4 linked regions of the Homo sapiens genome follow. The protein of the gene in region 4 purifies or fractionates together with the protein of the main gene of each other region. This does not show direct contact. Each region holds a gene or a part of one and is shown on either strand. Other genes may lie near its edges.

Region 1 (3,703 bases), on a different chromosome or scaffold from region 4:
GAAAAGTCCAACAACCTAGTAAATGCTGCCTCCAACACCAGGTAAGAAACCACAGCAGAAAGAGGACGGCAGAAGGAGGGGTACAACCCCTACAGTCAGGCATGCCTCGGGGACCTCAGGCCTCTCTGATGACCTCAGAGTCAGCACACTGACTTCACACTTGGTGAGTTCTGAGGAAGTCTCCTTAAACTTCCTCCACAAACAATGCTAAGAACTCACTCCTAGTCAGACTGGGGGAAATTCATAACTTTCCTTTCATTTAAGGACTAGAGGTTAGAGGAAAGGTTATTCAATCAATCAACAAATATTTGTGGCTGGGCACAGAGGCTCATGCCTGTAATCTCAGCACTTTAGGAAGCTAAGGTGGGAGGATCGCTTGAGCCCAGGAGTTCAAGACTGGCCTTGGCAACAAACTGAGACCCCATCTCTACAAAAAATCAAAAATAAAATTAGCTGAGCATAGTGGTGTACACCTGTGGTCCCAGCTACACAGAAGGCTGAGGCAGGAGGATCACATGAGCCCAGGAGGTTGCTGCACTCCAGCCTGGTAGACAGATCAAGACCCTGTCTTAACACAAAACAAAACAAACAAATAAAAGAGAACAAATATTTACTAAAATATGCTGCATGCTTTATATCCTACTAAGGGCAGGTGGGAGTGAGAAGGTGAGATAGGGAGAAGACAGACCTAGAAATGAATAAGGAGCTTGGCCTCAAAAGGGAACCAGACATCCAAAAAGGGATGACTGATTTCAGGAATGTGTTAAGAAGCCCCAACAGAGCGTGTGTATAGAGTGCTGTAGGGCACAGTGAGTGGCCACTGCTGGAAAGAGTCAGGGAAAGCTTCACACATGAGCTAACATTTGCACTAGACTGTGGAGGAGGACAGCTGATCAAACAGGGAGGAGCAGTGCAGGCAGGGATTCGCATGGGTGTGAAGGCAGAGGTGCAAGAGTGCACAGGCAGAGGTCGGGACTCAGCGGGATGGCTCACTGCACTCAGCTCATGAGATCCCGGCAGGGAAAAAACAGACTCATGTGTCTTTACCCTGCAACAACTAAAGCACAATCAGAAATAGGAGAGAAAAAGGGGAATATTATCCTGGAAATGATTCTAGATATGGCATACAATCTTGTCAGCATTTGAGTGCAGGTACATCTGAAATGGGGAACTCGTAAGCTTTTAAAACAGCTAGTCTGTGATGCCTCAAGCTTCATCTTTCAGATTAAAACACATACTGCGTTAATTCCAACCTGCTTTGGCAAAAGCTCAAGGGCACTCCTTCCCAGTGACCAGCAGAGAGAAGTGGACATTTCCTCTCCAGTGCCTTAGAAAGTTCAGTGTCTTGTAAAAAAGACTCAGCATCTTCACCTCGGCAATCCTCATCCTGCTCCTCGTTAACGGGTCTCTGAAATCATCGCTGATGTTGGAGTCATTATCACAACTCAACATTTTATTATCAAGATGTCATGAAGTAGGAAGAATAATGGACTTGAAATTTAAAAAAACTAGATACAACTCTTGGTTTTGCCACTAATTTATCTTGGCTACTATGGAACCCTTCCAAAGAAGATGGATTAATGATCTTTAAGGTCCTTTTGGATTCTGAAGACTGATAATCAAAGAGGATCCATGGGATCAGAGGAACGCTTGACACGCTCTCTGACAGAAAAGGTAATGGGTCAACAATCATAATGAGAGAGAAAGTGAGGTTCTAAAGCTCTGACTCTCCAAACAACATCATGAATCATCCCACTGATCGGAAAAGATGTTCTCTTTGACATTTTCTGGGGCAAATACCGTCAGGTTCCCAATGTCTAAGGCTGCCAAGGCTGCCCTTGGGCCTCCTCAGGTTGCCCCGATTCCTTATCAGTATGTTCTGTGTTGCAGGAATGTACTAGTAATTGCCCTCAGTACCTTGGGCCTCCTCAGGTTGCCCCAATTCCTTATCAGTATGTTCTGTGTTGCAGGAATGTACTAATAATTGCCCTCAGTACCTTGTTTCCTACTAAAAAAACAAGGCAGGTTCTCTAAGACCACTTCAAAAACAGTATTTTCTTCAGGATAAATGGACGAGAATTAGGCTCGGTTCTTTCAGTGTCCTATCCTGAAGGCAAGTGATATGGTTTGGATTTTGTCTTCACCCCAATTTCATGGTGAATTATAATCCCCAGTGTTGGAGGAGGGGCCTTGTGGGAGGTGACAGGATCATGGGGGCGGATATCCCCTTTGCTGTTCTCCTGACAGTGAATTCTCATGAGACCCGGTTGTTTAAAAGTGTGTAGCATCTCCCTCCTTCACTCTCTTCCTCCTCTCCAGCCACCTAGGACCTGCCTGCTTCCCCTTCACCTTCCACCATGATTCTAAGTTTCTCTACTTACAGGGATCACTTAAGAAGAAATAAACAGCAACTGCAGTCTAAAAAATAGGTAAGTTTCAAGGATCAAAGAAGCCTGAGGGGGAGGCTAATTCTTTGGATTTAGCTTTATCTTAACTATATTACCTGTCAATGCCTCACCTTCAGTTACAGTAATCTGAAAGCAATAAAACTCAAAGCAGGCCAGATGTCACTCTGTTGTCTAAGATAGGAAAGATCATCTTTCCTGTGTTTCCTGAGGCCTCCCCGGCAATGCTTCCTGTAAAGCCTGTGGAATCATGAGCCAATTAAACCTTTTTTCTTTATAAATTACCCAGTCTCTGGAAGTTCTTTAGAGCAAAGTGAGAATGGACTAATACAGTGAGCAATCTAATCTCTTACCAGAGGGACAGCTTTAACAAATCACGTACAGGGATTTTTGTGCTGGAAGAGACTGTCAATGACCTCTTGATTCATGCTGTAAACCGTGACTCTAGAAAGGGTGACCCTCGCCATGCACACATCCGAGGATACAGCTACTACAGTAACTGACCCACGTGTCTGGACCTCTGCAGGGAAAACTCCAGCAACCAGAGACCCGGGCCTGCCTCCTACTCACCATGGGCATCCCGTTCTCCTTCTTGCGCCATATCCAGTCTGGGTGGGGGTAGCCAACTGACTTGCAATACATAGTGGCATCCTGCCCTTCATTCTTGTTCTCACTCCGTTTATGGCCAGTGATGTCAGGAGCGGCTGTGAGAAAGCGTTAGACGCAGTTACCACGGAAGTCTACTCCAAACAGGATACAAAGGCCCCACCTTCTGGCTCAGAGCCCTGCTTGTAATGTAGTCAGTCTTTATGCTTACTGTCATACTCAGCTTTGATGAAGAGCATTTCAGGTCAGAATAGGGTAAAGGGACCAAACCCATCCTCTACCCCCCACCCGCTAAAGATGCCCAGGCAGATACCAGGGTTACTAATATATGAGGCTCTACTAATGTAGGTGATTCTCCAACCTACTGGAAAAGGATGCAGGTCCAACTGCCCTCAATTAAGCCTACCTTTAAAGAAAATGCAAACAAACACTATTATCTCTTCTATCGGCCCAAGTTTTTTCTTAAAACACCTGCATGAACAACAGTTATGCATCCTGTCAAATATCACACATTCCCTTAAGGAAATGAGATTCTGAGATAAAACAACTACAATCAAGTCCTATTACAAGGTATGTAAAAACAATGAATGCTTGGAGAAGCTACTCAATAAGTAACAATGACCAAGGCTCTCCCAGGAAAGAGGGAATCCAGAAACTGGTCTTCACAAGGAGGAAGAAAGGAATGAACAGGA
Region 2 (3,703 bases), on a different chromosome or scaffold from region 4:
TAGCTCACCTGCTCCAGGAAGCCTGCCCAGATTTATGTCATCAGGCTCTACTTTCCTCTCCGTTTCAGACTTCCCCGCACCAGGATGCTCAGCTGGCACAGAGCTCTTGTATACCTGGTATATCTGCCTAATGATTCCTTGACGGGATATTCCCTCCAGGCAGAAAGCAGCCCAAGACTCCACACACAGTGCCCATAACTGATTAAGAGAGGAGAGGGGGCAACCAAGGCCATGGAGCGGGAGAAACTTTGCCACCCCTCAGCCCTGGGAACAAACACTTCTCCCTGTGTCCCCCACCGCCATCGTCTTAGGCCCCGCCTGGGCCCCTCTCCCAGCATGTCTCTGTTGCTTCCCATCTGGTCCACCATCTGTGGCCACCTGCCCCCTCTGCTGTTGTCCCCCATCCCCAACAGTCAACCCACTGCTCTCTCCTTTCTATATCACCCTCCCCTGCCTTGACCTAGGTCACCCCTCAGGTGCAAAGGCAGGATGGGAACAGGGGTGGGGAGTACGTTGCCTGAGCTGTCTTCCTGGACAGAAAAGGAACAGCTGGGATGGCCTCTGACCCCAGGAAATGCCACCTGTGTCCCAAGCTTAGCCAGGCACACCTGGAAAAGTGCCAGGTCCCGGTCAGCCTCCCAGCCTCTCTTCCCCTGGCAGATGTGCCAGCGGAGACTGGAGGCCAAGAGGGCTCTGCTGTTCTGGGAGCTGCCCAGACCATGGACAGGAGCTGCTGCGTGTCTGAGCAGAGGAAGAAAGAGGCGAGGAGAATTCAGCCTCCAGGGGAGCCATCGGCCCAGGCTGGGGCAGCTGCAGCCATAGGGAAGAGAGTGGAGGCACAAACACGGAGACCAAACAGGGGAAGACAAAGCCTCAGGAGAGGAGCCAGCAATGGGCAAGTGGGAGAGCCGGAGAGCCGCAGGAGCAGGGAGAGGGCACCGGAGAGAGGCAGTGCTGCAGGGCTCCGCATGGGCAGGGGCGGGAAAGAAAGAAGAGACAAAGAACAAGAGGAGGAAAACAAAGGGGCAGTGGGAGTCAGCTCCCCCTCACCCCGGCCTCCCTGAACTTTGGGGTTGCCGTGGTGACTGCCTCCAAGGGTCAGGGCCGAAGGGAGAGGGTGGGGCCAGAGCTGCCGGGCCAGGAGGAGCCGTCCTGGATGTTGCCCCGAGCCTTCTCTAGACTAGGGAACCAAGGTCTAGGGCTCTGCCCTGGTGGGAGACCGAAGGCTTAATGGGGGCGCTTCTCTGCCAGTGCCTGGCCACGCTCACCAAAGGCAGGCTGGGTGTGGAGGACCAGAGGGAGAGGCCCTCCTTCCCACCTCCTTCCCACTTGTCTCAAGTGCCCAGGCACAGTTGAGGACACAGGAGCTCCAGCCTCCCTCTTCCGCCTCCTGGAGGGGAAACTGAAGTCTCAGGAGGCTCAGAACCTCAGCCACAGTCCCTGAAAAGCTCCTGCTTCCTGGTTCCTGTGGCTACTTTGAAGGGTGGGGCAGGGAGGCATCTGTCCAGCAAGGACCCTGAGTGAGGCCACGCCCTGACTCTGGCATACCCCTCCTTCCCCTTCAGGCCACACTCCCTGGGGTGGGAGTAGGGGCCTGCCAGCCTCTTCTTTTCCTCCCTTCCCTGATGGATTTGAAGGCTGCCTAGAGGGGATGTGACCTGATCCACCCCTGGGGTGCAGCTAACAGCATCCCCTCATGAGGGTCTCAGTTGTTCCCAGGCTTGGGGAAGGCACTCAGCAACTTGGGTGTGGTCTTCTCCCTGCTGCTACCTCTGGCTCCCCACAGCTGATAAAAAAAGACAGAATACTGTCACCAACCCCCTCCAACTCTCCTCCCCCAGCCCTGCTGTCCAGGGAGTCTGTAGGCTGAGTGCTTGGCCAAGCAGCAGGAATGCCCCAGCCTGGGTTCCGGCCAGGCTCCCACGCCCTGGGACTCTGTTCTCTCCTCAGATAAGGTGCCTTGGGGTCTCTGCCCTCAAAGCTCACCAGTCCACTGGCCTGTCCTGGTCCCTACACTCCATTCCTGGAGCTTGGGCTGGTCACAGCTAGCAGGAAAGGAAGGCCTGGCACCCTAAGAACAGCCCATGAGGTGGCAAGGGGGGCCCACGAGGCCTCAGCCTGCCCCCCAGCTTCATTGCAGCCCCTCCTCCAAGCCAGACCCGAACCACGGACTCTGAAAGTGGGGTCTGTTTGGACAGACAATGAGCTCTGGCCTCACTTCCTGTGGGAGCTCTGAAGGGGGAGCCAGGCCAGGCTCTTTCTGCCTGGAGGGAAAAGAATGCGCTAGACAAAGTCCCTGTCAGCCGATTCTGCAGCTCAGCCAGGAGGCAAAAGGGGCCAGAAGAGGACTACAGGGTCCTGACCCCTGGGTGGCGGCAGCCCTGTGCTCCCGTGGTCCCCAGCTCTGCCAAAGGCTGTGTGAGACTGCAGGAATATCTTGATGGGGGTGAAGGGGCCCTGGCCTCGCCTCCTCTCCTGCGCCACAGTCCTCTCTGCCCTTCCCCCAGCTCTCCTGGCCCCCCAGGCTTCCACGCGCCTTTTTTCACAATTCTTGGCAGCCATAGCCGGGGCAGCCTCACAACACTTCCCCGACCACGTCACAGGCTGGTAGACAGTGGGGGCAGCCAACCGAAGCAGCCCAGCCCAGCCCAGCAGAAGGTGGGGCCTGCACCAGCCGCCAGGGTTCCTGGGGCTTCTTCCCAAGCTGGCTCTTGCCCCTCCTGCTCTGTGCCAGGCACTGGGCAGGGAGGTGGATCTGTAGCTGCTTCCTGGATCGCACCCTACCTCCAGTGGCTGCCCAGACCATCCCCGCGAGCTACCCCCACCCCAGCGCCACCTGGGCCCTTCCTTACCTGACACCAGCACGCTCATGATGGCCTCCAGAGGCCGGTTGTTGTCCAGTGCGCGGCTTAGCTTCAGCTCACCCGTGGAGGCATTGAGCAGGACCAGGCTGAGTTCATTTCCCCGCTCAAAGCTGTAAGTCAGACTATCTGAGATATCAGGGTCATGGGCAGGTACTCGGCCAATGGCACCCCCAGGGAAGCTGCTTGAGCGATTGGTGACATAGTTGTTGAAAAGGATCTCAAAGTTGCCCAGCACTGGTGGGTTGTCATTGCGGTCAAGGAGGCGGACGTGGACTGTAGCCCGGCTCACCAGAGGAGCTGACGTGGCCTGGATGACCAGGACGTACTCAGGCCGGTCCTCGTAGTCTAAGTCTACCAGGGCTGTCAGCTCCCCGGAGAAGATGTCCAGCTGAAAGACCTCAGGGATGTTGCCCTCCACAATCTGGTACATAATCTGGGCATTGGTGCCTTCATCGGGGTCAGTGGCTGTGACCCGGGCCACGGCTAGCCCAATGGGGCTGTTCTCTTCCACAAACACATCAAACTCATCCTGCTCAAAGACAGGGGGATTGTCATTCACATCCAACACAGTGACTGTCACTTCCATAGGTGTGCGGGCTGGGGGCATCCCCTTGTCCACTGCATATGCCCGCAAGACATACTGGGCCACGTTCTCTCGATCCAGCCTCCGTAGCGTTCGCACGATGCCTGACGTGGACTCAACAATAAAGTCACCGTCTCCATCGTCGCCTCCTTGGAAGGTGTAGAAGACCCTGCCATTAAGTCCAGAATCACGATCAGTGGCTGAGATCTGCAGGACGCTAGTGAAGGGTGGCACATCCTCATAGACACTGCCCTGG
Region 3 (3,703 bases), on a different chromosome or scaffold from region 4:
CCCTCCCGAGGCTTGTCCTGAAGTCTTCAGCTGGACTCCAGCTGGACCCCAGAGTTCACAGGTCAGGACCAAGCTCGACCGGTGAAGTCAGAACATTCCGTTCGGCCGGGGGCTGAACCCATGTGCCTCTCTGGATGCTTCCCCAAGCTTGCCCGGACTCCCGCAGTGCTCCTGTCTCCCACACAGGCGGCCCTCACAATGCTGGGTGTCCCTGGATCCCACGGGGAGGTTGGAAGCCCCTTTGTGATTGGGGCCAGAAGTCTACACTGAGGGTTGGGGGACAGTCATTTGTTTCCTGCCAGAGAAGGCAAGAGCTGCAGAAGGAGAGAGCGAGGGAGCAGGAAGCATAATGACACTAATTATCCAATTACAGCGGGTGTGCGAGCTGCATAGCAGCGTGAGCCTGGCCAGCCACTACCCTGCCCCTACGTGCTCCCCACGCCCCTCCTGCCAGCCCGGGCCTGCCCAGCAGCCCCGAAGGCAGGGACGGCATGGGGACCTAGAAACGCTGTGGCTGTGGCCAGCGTGAAAGACTCTAGCCTACAAAGGGACGGAGACCTCGTGTTTGGGGTCCAATGGGAAGCCGGGTCCCTGTCCTCCCAGCCCTTCATAGCCAGAGAGCACGTGGATGGGAGGAGAGGTGCCCCAAGTCGGCCCGGCTCTGCTGTGGTACCTCGGTGCCCGTCCCAGCCCGCTTCCAATCTCAGAGCCAGCTCTGAGGACCGGAAGCCGTCGGGGCCTAAATAGGTAATTAAGGAAATTACAGGCAGCTGGAGGCCATGGGGCTGTGGGCCCTGGGCTAAGTCCTTCCAGCTTGGACAGGCAGTGACTAAATAAGGAGCTACCAGGACACATACACGTGTCCTCCTAGGGAACGAGTCCCATGGGGCCCCATTAGGAATCCTGGCAGGGGCAGTAGAGAGGGCATCCTGGTTTCTGGAAGCAGGCCAAAGTCCTTGGGAGTACAGGCTGGGGGGATGCATTGGTGTCAAGGTCAGAGGCCAATAAAAGGATCTGGGAGGCAGACCTCCAAATGGGGGCTCCAACTGAAGATGGGAGTCAAGCCTGCCCTTCTGTGATCTAGACCCAAGGAACGAGCACACCGAAGTATCCGTGCCACTCTCCCCAGCTGAGGGGGCAGGATGCCTGCTGCCAAATGTGGTGATGGAGGAAGAGCCAGTGGCGAGGATGCCCAGAGAGAGGGTACCTCAGAAGCTGCAGCCGAGGCTGCAGGACGCGAAGGTCATCAAGGGCTTGGCTGCTGTCTGAATCGCGTGAACTGAGCATTGCTGGTTCATTTTTGAATTTTGCCTAAGACACTATTTCTGAGCGAGGAACCCGGCATACGAGCCCAAAGCTTTTCCAGCAAAGCCCAGAGGAAGCACCACCAAGTTCCTGCCGTGCTCCAGGAGTGCCTGAAGGGAGTGCAGAGGCAGAGGCCCCCTCTCAGGCCGGGACCCAACACCAACACAGGGCTCCGAGTCTCTCCCTCAGTGCGCCCCACAGCCCATCAGCTCCCCCTACCCTCCCACCACCAGCTGCTCCTCCAGTTCCTGACCCTCTTATCATCATCTGTCATCAGCACCATTCCTCCCGCCCCCTCTGTGCTCATGGACAGATGCCTGCTCTCCCCACTGGGAAGGCACCGGGAGAGCACAGCTGGGCTGGGGACAGGACCTGAAGGGGTGGATTTCTGCTCTGTGTGCTCACCCCCTCCCCTCCTCCCTTAGGGGAGACCCCAACCCTGCCCGTCTCCATCTCAGATACCCCCTCCCACGATTGTGCTATAGCCCAGCTTCCTCCTTCGGGGAAGGGTGGATGGGGCGCAGAGGGCCAGGCGGTGGCCTGGGAGCCCTGACCCACCCCATCCCACCTACAGACACAGCCACGAGTGCCTCCCTAGGGGCTACCAGGGCAGGCGTCTGGGGCAGTGGCCCCCAGGTCAGCGCATTCTTACCCTCTGGCCCCATGGATGGGTTACAAGGGGGGACTCTTGCTCCACTCCCCAGGACAGAGGTTTCCAAGCCTAGCTGCTGGTCACAGTGTTGTGGGCAGATGAACCACAGGCCAGGAGGGAGAGATGAGACTAGGTGGGAGACGTGCCCTACCCGTCCACAGCCCTCCCTCTTCTCCTGCACCAGACGTGGGACCATCTGCTGGCAGCCGCCCTCTGACTACAGGAAGGTACCCAGAGACCCCAGGAGCCAGAGGAGCCAGGACCAGCTGCTCCTGAGCCCATCTCTCCTGGGCCTGTGGCTCCAAGCCAAGATGTGGCAGTGTCTGGTCCTGGATGCTTCCAGGAGAAATGGAGCTGAGGCCCATGGTGGGGGGCGGAATGGACCCTTGTGCCTGGTGAGCCCTTGCTCTGCCCGAGAATTGGGGCTGGACACACTCTCCTGCTCCTGCTGCTCTTTGAGGGAGCCAAGCGGTTACTGCCGGGCTGGTCCAACCTGGAGAAAGGGCCCCTTCCCATTTGGTCACGCCCTGTGCCACCATCACACCCCTGGCCCGCAATCTGTGGGAATGTAGGTTCAGTTTCGAACCGGCCACTCCATGCGCCTTAACCCGGTTCAGGGTTTGATTTGAAACGCCGGAGTGCAGGGAATTCTGAGTGTCAGGACAGTGATTTCCAAAAGAGCAGCAGAAAGGCCTAAGTCCTGTCATTTGAGGTCATCTTCTGCCGGCCCACAGTGGCTTCCCAATCTCCCGCGCTCTCTTGTACTGCCGGCTTTGTTTTCGTGTTTCTCAGTCAGGAGGCTGTGGCGTTCCCAGGGCCGTCTGGCTATCCTCAGCTGGGGGCCTTCACTCAGGATGGCGCTGTACTGCCCACACCCGCCTCCCATCTGCGGAGAGTCAAATCCACAGCATCTGCACAGAGCCAGCCGCCACCCCACCCCATGGGGACCGGACTCATCTGCGGCTTCGGAACTCTGAGGATGTCCAGAGAATGTATCACCCAGTGCTTTATCTTGGCGGGGAGGGAGGAAGGGGGTCTTGACAAAGTGGTTCTGAAGTCCACTGGACAGAGAAGCAAGCTTTAGGATTGCTGAGGTGGGGCCGGCAGGTCAGGTATTAAATGATACCAGGTACAAGAGGCAAAAGCACATCACCGGTACAGCAGCACACAGATGGGCCCGTGGGTCAGGACAGGCAGCCAGCACCAGGTCTGACTGCAGACCAGTGTCAGTGCGTGCAAATGAGCCAGGGAACAACCGATTTGCTACTAGAGATGGGGACAACTGGTTAGCAATCTGCAAAGGATGCACCTTAGATCCTCACCTCAAACTATCCCCTAAGACACATCTCATTTGGATTCAACAGGTTTGGCAAATTACAGCTTAAGTGCCAAATCTGGCAGCCCAGTGTTCTTGTGAATAAAGTTTTATTGGGACACAGCCTCACCCCCTCATTTCGCATTGTCTGTGGCTACTTGCAGGCTACCATGCAGAGTTGAGTAGTCGGGACAGAGACTATGTGGCCTGCAAACTGGAAATCTATTTACCATCTGGCCTTTTGCAGAAAAAGCTTGCTAATCCCTAAATTAAAGAGTTAAGTATCTTAAAAATGCAACTACACCACCCCAATACACACACACACACACACACAGACACACACACACGAAGACACATGGAAAACTCAGAAATGAACAGCTCTCAAATTTCCGAAAGGGATTTTCTAAGCCTAGAAACAATGGAAGAAATCA
Region 4 (4,198 bases):
TAGCTGTGACTATGGGACTACAGGTGTATGCCACTTTGCTCGGCTAATTTTTTAATTTTTTAAAAGACAGGGTCTTGCTGTGTTGCCCAAGCTGGTCTCGAACTCCTGGGCTCAAGCAATCCTCCCACCTTGGCCTCCCAAAGTGCTGGGATTACAGACATGAGCCACCGCACCCGACCTTGAAGCGTTTGCTCTTGTGGTCCAGGCTAGAGTGCAATGGCACGATCTCTGAGTTTTGCTCTTGTTGCCCAGAGTTTTGCTCTTGTTGCTCAGGCTGGAGTGCAATGGCGCAATCTCAGCTCACTGCAACCTCCGCCTCTCTGGTTCAAGTGATTCTCCTGCCTCAGCCTCCCAGGTAGCTGGGGTTACAGGCGTGCACCACCACATCCAGCTGATTTTTGTATCTTTAGTAGAGATGGGGTTTCACTATGTTGGTCAGGCTAGTCTCAAACTCGTAAGCTCAAGTGATCCACCTGCCTTGGCCTCCCAAAGTGCTGGGATTACAGGTGTGAGCCACCATGCCTGGCCAAAGCTGGTTTTTAATCTGAACAGTGCCAAGCTAACCCATTTCCATTCATGACCCCTGCTAAACTCCACTGCTGTACTTTCTCTCCTTTTAGTTAACTTCTTCAGTTTGTGTTCATAGTACTAATAGACAAGTCCTGCCTTTCTTCTGCCATGGTTCCCATGAAGGTTGGTGACAGCAGTAAATTTAGCACAGAGAAATGCTCATAGATTTTTCTTTAATGCAGAGAGGGGTAGGTTCTGCCTCCTTCTCTTTTTTCATCTCCATCCATTTGAGTAATATAAGCATGCCTTAGGTAATGACAGTTAATTTAAAGATTGGTTTCCAGAAAGCCCCCTGGGAGGATACATATCCTTAAAATAGGATATTTGAGATATGGGCTAGGAAGTGGGAAGATGAGATATCTTTTAAAGGTAAAAATTTTTTGGAATGGCAATATCATTTTCCAGAAAGGACCCATTCCCTACCTTGCATTTGCAATTCTCTGATGCTTCTCACGTCTTTTGGGAAGATCCCAGGCAGCTGTTCCAGTCGGCAACTGCTATCTCTGAGGTCTGGGGGTGAGCAGAGGGGGAGGAGGGGAACCGGGGAAGGTTTGGGGAAAATCAGAATTTACTGGTACTTACTTTTTAGAATTCTGGGCAATGGAGAAGATATGAAAGATTGCAGTTCCTGCTCATAAAACTTGCAACTTGGGAGATCAAACACTCTCTAAAAAGACTTTACTTTTATTTATTTATTTATTTATTTATTTATTTATTTATTTATTTATTGAGACGGAGTCTCACTCTGTCGCCCAGGATGGAGTGCAGTGACGTGATCTCCGCTCATTGCAACATTCACCTCCTGGGTTCAAGGGATTCTTCTGCCTCAGCCTCCCGAGTAGCTGGGATTACGGGCATGCACCACCATGCCCAGCTAATTTTTGTATTTTTAGTAGAGATGGGGTTTCGCCATTTTGGCTATGCTGGTCTCAAACTCCTTACTTCAGGTGATCCACCTGCCTTGGCCTCCCAAAAGTGCTAGGATGACAGGTGTGAGCCACCACGCCCGGCCCTCAAAAAAGAACACCCAGCCAAATACATACAAAGTAGTAGTTGACCTAGTATAAAGAATACTGTGTACCAATCTATTACCCTTAGGACAAAGAAAGGTCAAATAGAGTTAAGAAAATTTACTAAGTTAATGAAAGTCTAACCAACCCATTTCCTTAAATACTGCTTATTTTCTCTTCTCCCTCCTATTCTGTCTTCTTTCTTGTATTAAATAAAGCTTTTGGAGATTTATATTGTCTGACCTTGGTATCTCTATAGGTTTCCACAGAACCATAGGTCTTAGTTATTTATGCTTTTTGGCACATAATTCAAAGGGTTGTGACATTTTTATAATTTGTCAAATTCGTTACTGCTGCACTTTGTGCCATTTGGTCTTAATTCTGATTAGCTAATTTTATTTTTTTATTTTAATTTTTTATTTTTTGAGACAGAGTCTCATTCTGTTACCTAGGCTGGATTTCAGTGGTACGATCTCAGCTCATTGCAACCTCACCTCCCAGGTTTAAGTGATTCTTATGCCTCAGCCACCCGAGTAGCTGAGATTACAGGTGCATGCCACCATGCCTGGCTAATTTTTGCACTTTTAGTAGAGATGGGGTTTCGCCATGTTGGCCAGGCTGGTCTCGAACTCCTGACCTCAGGTGATCCACCAATCTTGGCCTCCCAAAGTGCTGGGATTACAGTCATGAGCCACCGTGCCCAGCCTTGATTAGCTAATTTTAGAGATGAAATGTTTATGAAACTTTGAAAACTCATATTTTAAATAAGCAGTTACCAAAGAGCAGCAAATGATGCCATTCCACCCAATATCACCCTTTCCCTCAGCTCTCCCCACCCAAGAATATCACCGTCTAGCTATTTACATGTACCAACTTAAAAAAGGCAACATCTTATGAACAGTATGAATTTGGGAACCTTAGGTGATGACAATACTGAAACTCTAAAGAAAGCCATCCAACAGTGAAAGGACTTTTAATGTTAATTACATGAACAAGACATAAGAATGCATCACATTCTCTGAAGACCTCTCATCATGAAACAGACAGCTATCTCTCTGGAATGAATAAGTTGCAGTCCTTCTTAGAGGCGAGTGGATACATGGGATTAACTCTGGAAAGTATTGCTTGCTGGATATCAGCTACATCTCTATCTGGTGGAAGAGACCCCGAAACTCTTTCTAGGCCTCTCTCTGTATTTTCCAGGAGATTAGGCTAGAGAATTACATACCTTTCTTGTTGGCATCATAGGATGCAATGATTAGGCTGAAGACCAAGATGGTATCCATGTTAGCTTGAGCACATGCTCATTGCAGACAGACCACTGCTCATCTGTCACAGCCCTTGATAGCTCTGCCTCTAGTTGCTTTCACCACACGCAGCTGGAACCAAGTTTGACCCTGAGAGACTCTGATTCCACCCTGATTATTTTGCCCCATTTCCTGAAGACCCAGGAATAGATCTAATTGGAGAAAGGGCTAATTCTGCTTATTAATAATTCACTCAGACTTCTTCTGACTTCGCTGCCGGTGCCGACATAGAGAACTAGATTACCTAGAGGTTTCTCGAGCAGGAAGGCCATAAACGCCCATTGATATGCTTTACAAATACTTGCAGATAGACACGTAGACATTTACATGCATGCTCACTGACACAGGCACAGAGATTTATATACTTTCATGAAAAGATGTGGAGATTTCTAGTAAGGAATATAATTTCTAGAGCAGGAATTATAGAAATAGAGCAGGAAACTAGGACTAGGAGTCAGTACAATTGAGTTCTAGTACAGGCCCTTTTATGAGCTATCACCTTGAGAAAATTACTTGACTTCTTGGGATCTAAATGTTCTCTTCTATAAATTGAGAGTCCTGAACCATATGATCTCTTTTTTTTTTGAGGCAGAGTCTCGCTCGGTCGCCCAGGCTGGAGTGTAGTGACACGATCTCGGCTCACTGCAAGCTCTGTCTCCCAGGTTCACGCCATTCTCCTGCCTCAGCCTCCTGAGTAGGTGGGACTACAGGCGCCCACTACCATGCCTGGCTAATGTTTTTGTATTTTTAGTAGAGACAGCGTTTCACCGTGTTAGACAGGATGGTCTTAATCTCCTGATCTCGTGATCCACCTGCCTCGGCCTCCCGAAGTGCTGGGATTACAGGCATGAGCCACCGTGCCTGGCCTTTTTTTTTGTGAAATGGAGTCTCGTTCTGTTGCCCAGGCTGGAGTGCAGTGGCATAATCTTGGCTCACTGCAACCTTCATCTCCTGGGTTCAAGTGATTCTCCTGCCTCAGTCTCCTGAATAGCTGGGATTAAATGTGTGTGCCACCCTGCCGGCTAATTTTTATATTTTTAGTAGAGACAGGTTTCACCATGTTGGCCAGGCTGGTCTCGAACTCCTGACCTCAAGTGATCTGCCCCCATCGGCCTCCCAAAGTGCTGGGATTACAGCCGTGAGCCACCCCAGCCGGCCGTGAACCATATGATCTCTAGAATTAATCCAGTTATATATATAAACTCACATTAGCACAGACATACCTATTGAGTTTTGCACATCTTCACACTCCTGAATAGTGAAGTGAGTATTGGTGGACAACATTCTGATGACCATTGGGCTGAGAGGTTG

The links. The genes of interacting proteins can lie anywhere in the genome.
Region 1: the proteins of C17orf78 (region 4) and NPTN purify together in Homo sapiens (affinity purification with mass spectrometry; one large-scale study listed by BioGRID and IntAct). This does not show direct contact.
Region 2: the proteins of C17orf78 (region 4) and CELSR2 purify together in Homo sapiens (affinity purification with mass spectrometry; one large-scale study listed by BioGRID and IntAct). This does not show direct contact.
Region 3: the proteins of C17orf78 (region 4) and ATP2B3 purify together in Homo sapiens (affinity purification with mass spectrometry; one large-scale study listed by BioGRID and IntAct). This does not show direct contact.

What each region holds. Positions count from the first base shown.
Region 1 is NC_000015.10:73,570,687-73,574,389, forward strand, and holds part of NPTN (neuroplastin isoform b precursor), read right to left. Parts: intron 3,110-3,703; coding exon 2,976-3,109; intron 1-2,975. UniProt on the Homo sapiens protein: Probable homophilic and heterophilic cell adhesion molecule involved in long term potentiation at hippocampal excitatory synapses through activation of p38MAPK. May also regulate neurite outgrowth by activating the FGFR1 signaling pathway.
Region 2 is NC_000001.11:109,252,539-109,256,241, reverse strand, and holds part of CELSR2 (cadherin EGF LAG seven-pass G-type receptor 2 precursor), read right to left. Parts: coding exon 2,853-3,703; intron 1-2,852. UniProt on the Homo sapiens protein: Receptor that may have an important role in cell/cell signaling during nervous system formation.
Region 3 is NC_000023.11:153,524,142-153,527,844, reverse strand, and holds part of ATP2B3 (plasma membrane calcium-transporting ATPase 3), read right to left. Parts: intron 1-3,703. UniProt on the Homo sapiens protein: ATP-driven Ca(2+) ion pump involved in the maintenance of basal intracellular Ca(2+) levels at the presynaptic terminals. Uses ATP as an energy source to transport cytosolic Ca(2+) ions across the plasma membrane to the extracellular compartment.
Region 4 is NC_000017.11:37,374,761-37,378,958, reverse strand, and holds the start of C17orf78 (uncharacterized protein C17orf78), read right to left. Parts: upstream 2,975-4,198; 5' UTR 2,867-2,974; coding exon 2,809-2,866; intron 1,081-2,808; coding exon 994-1,080; intron 1-993.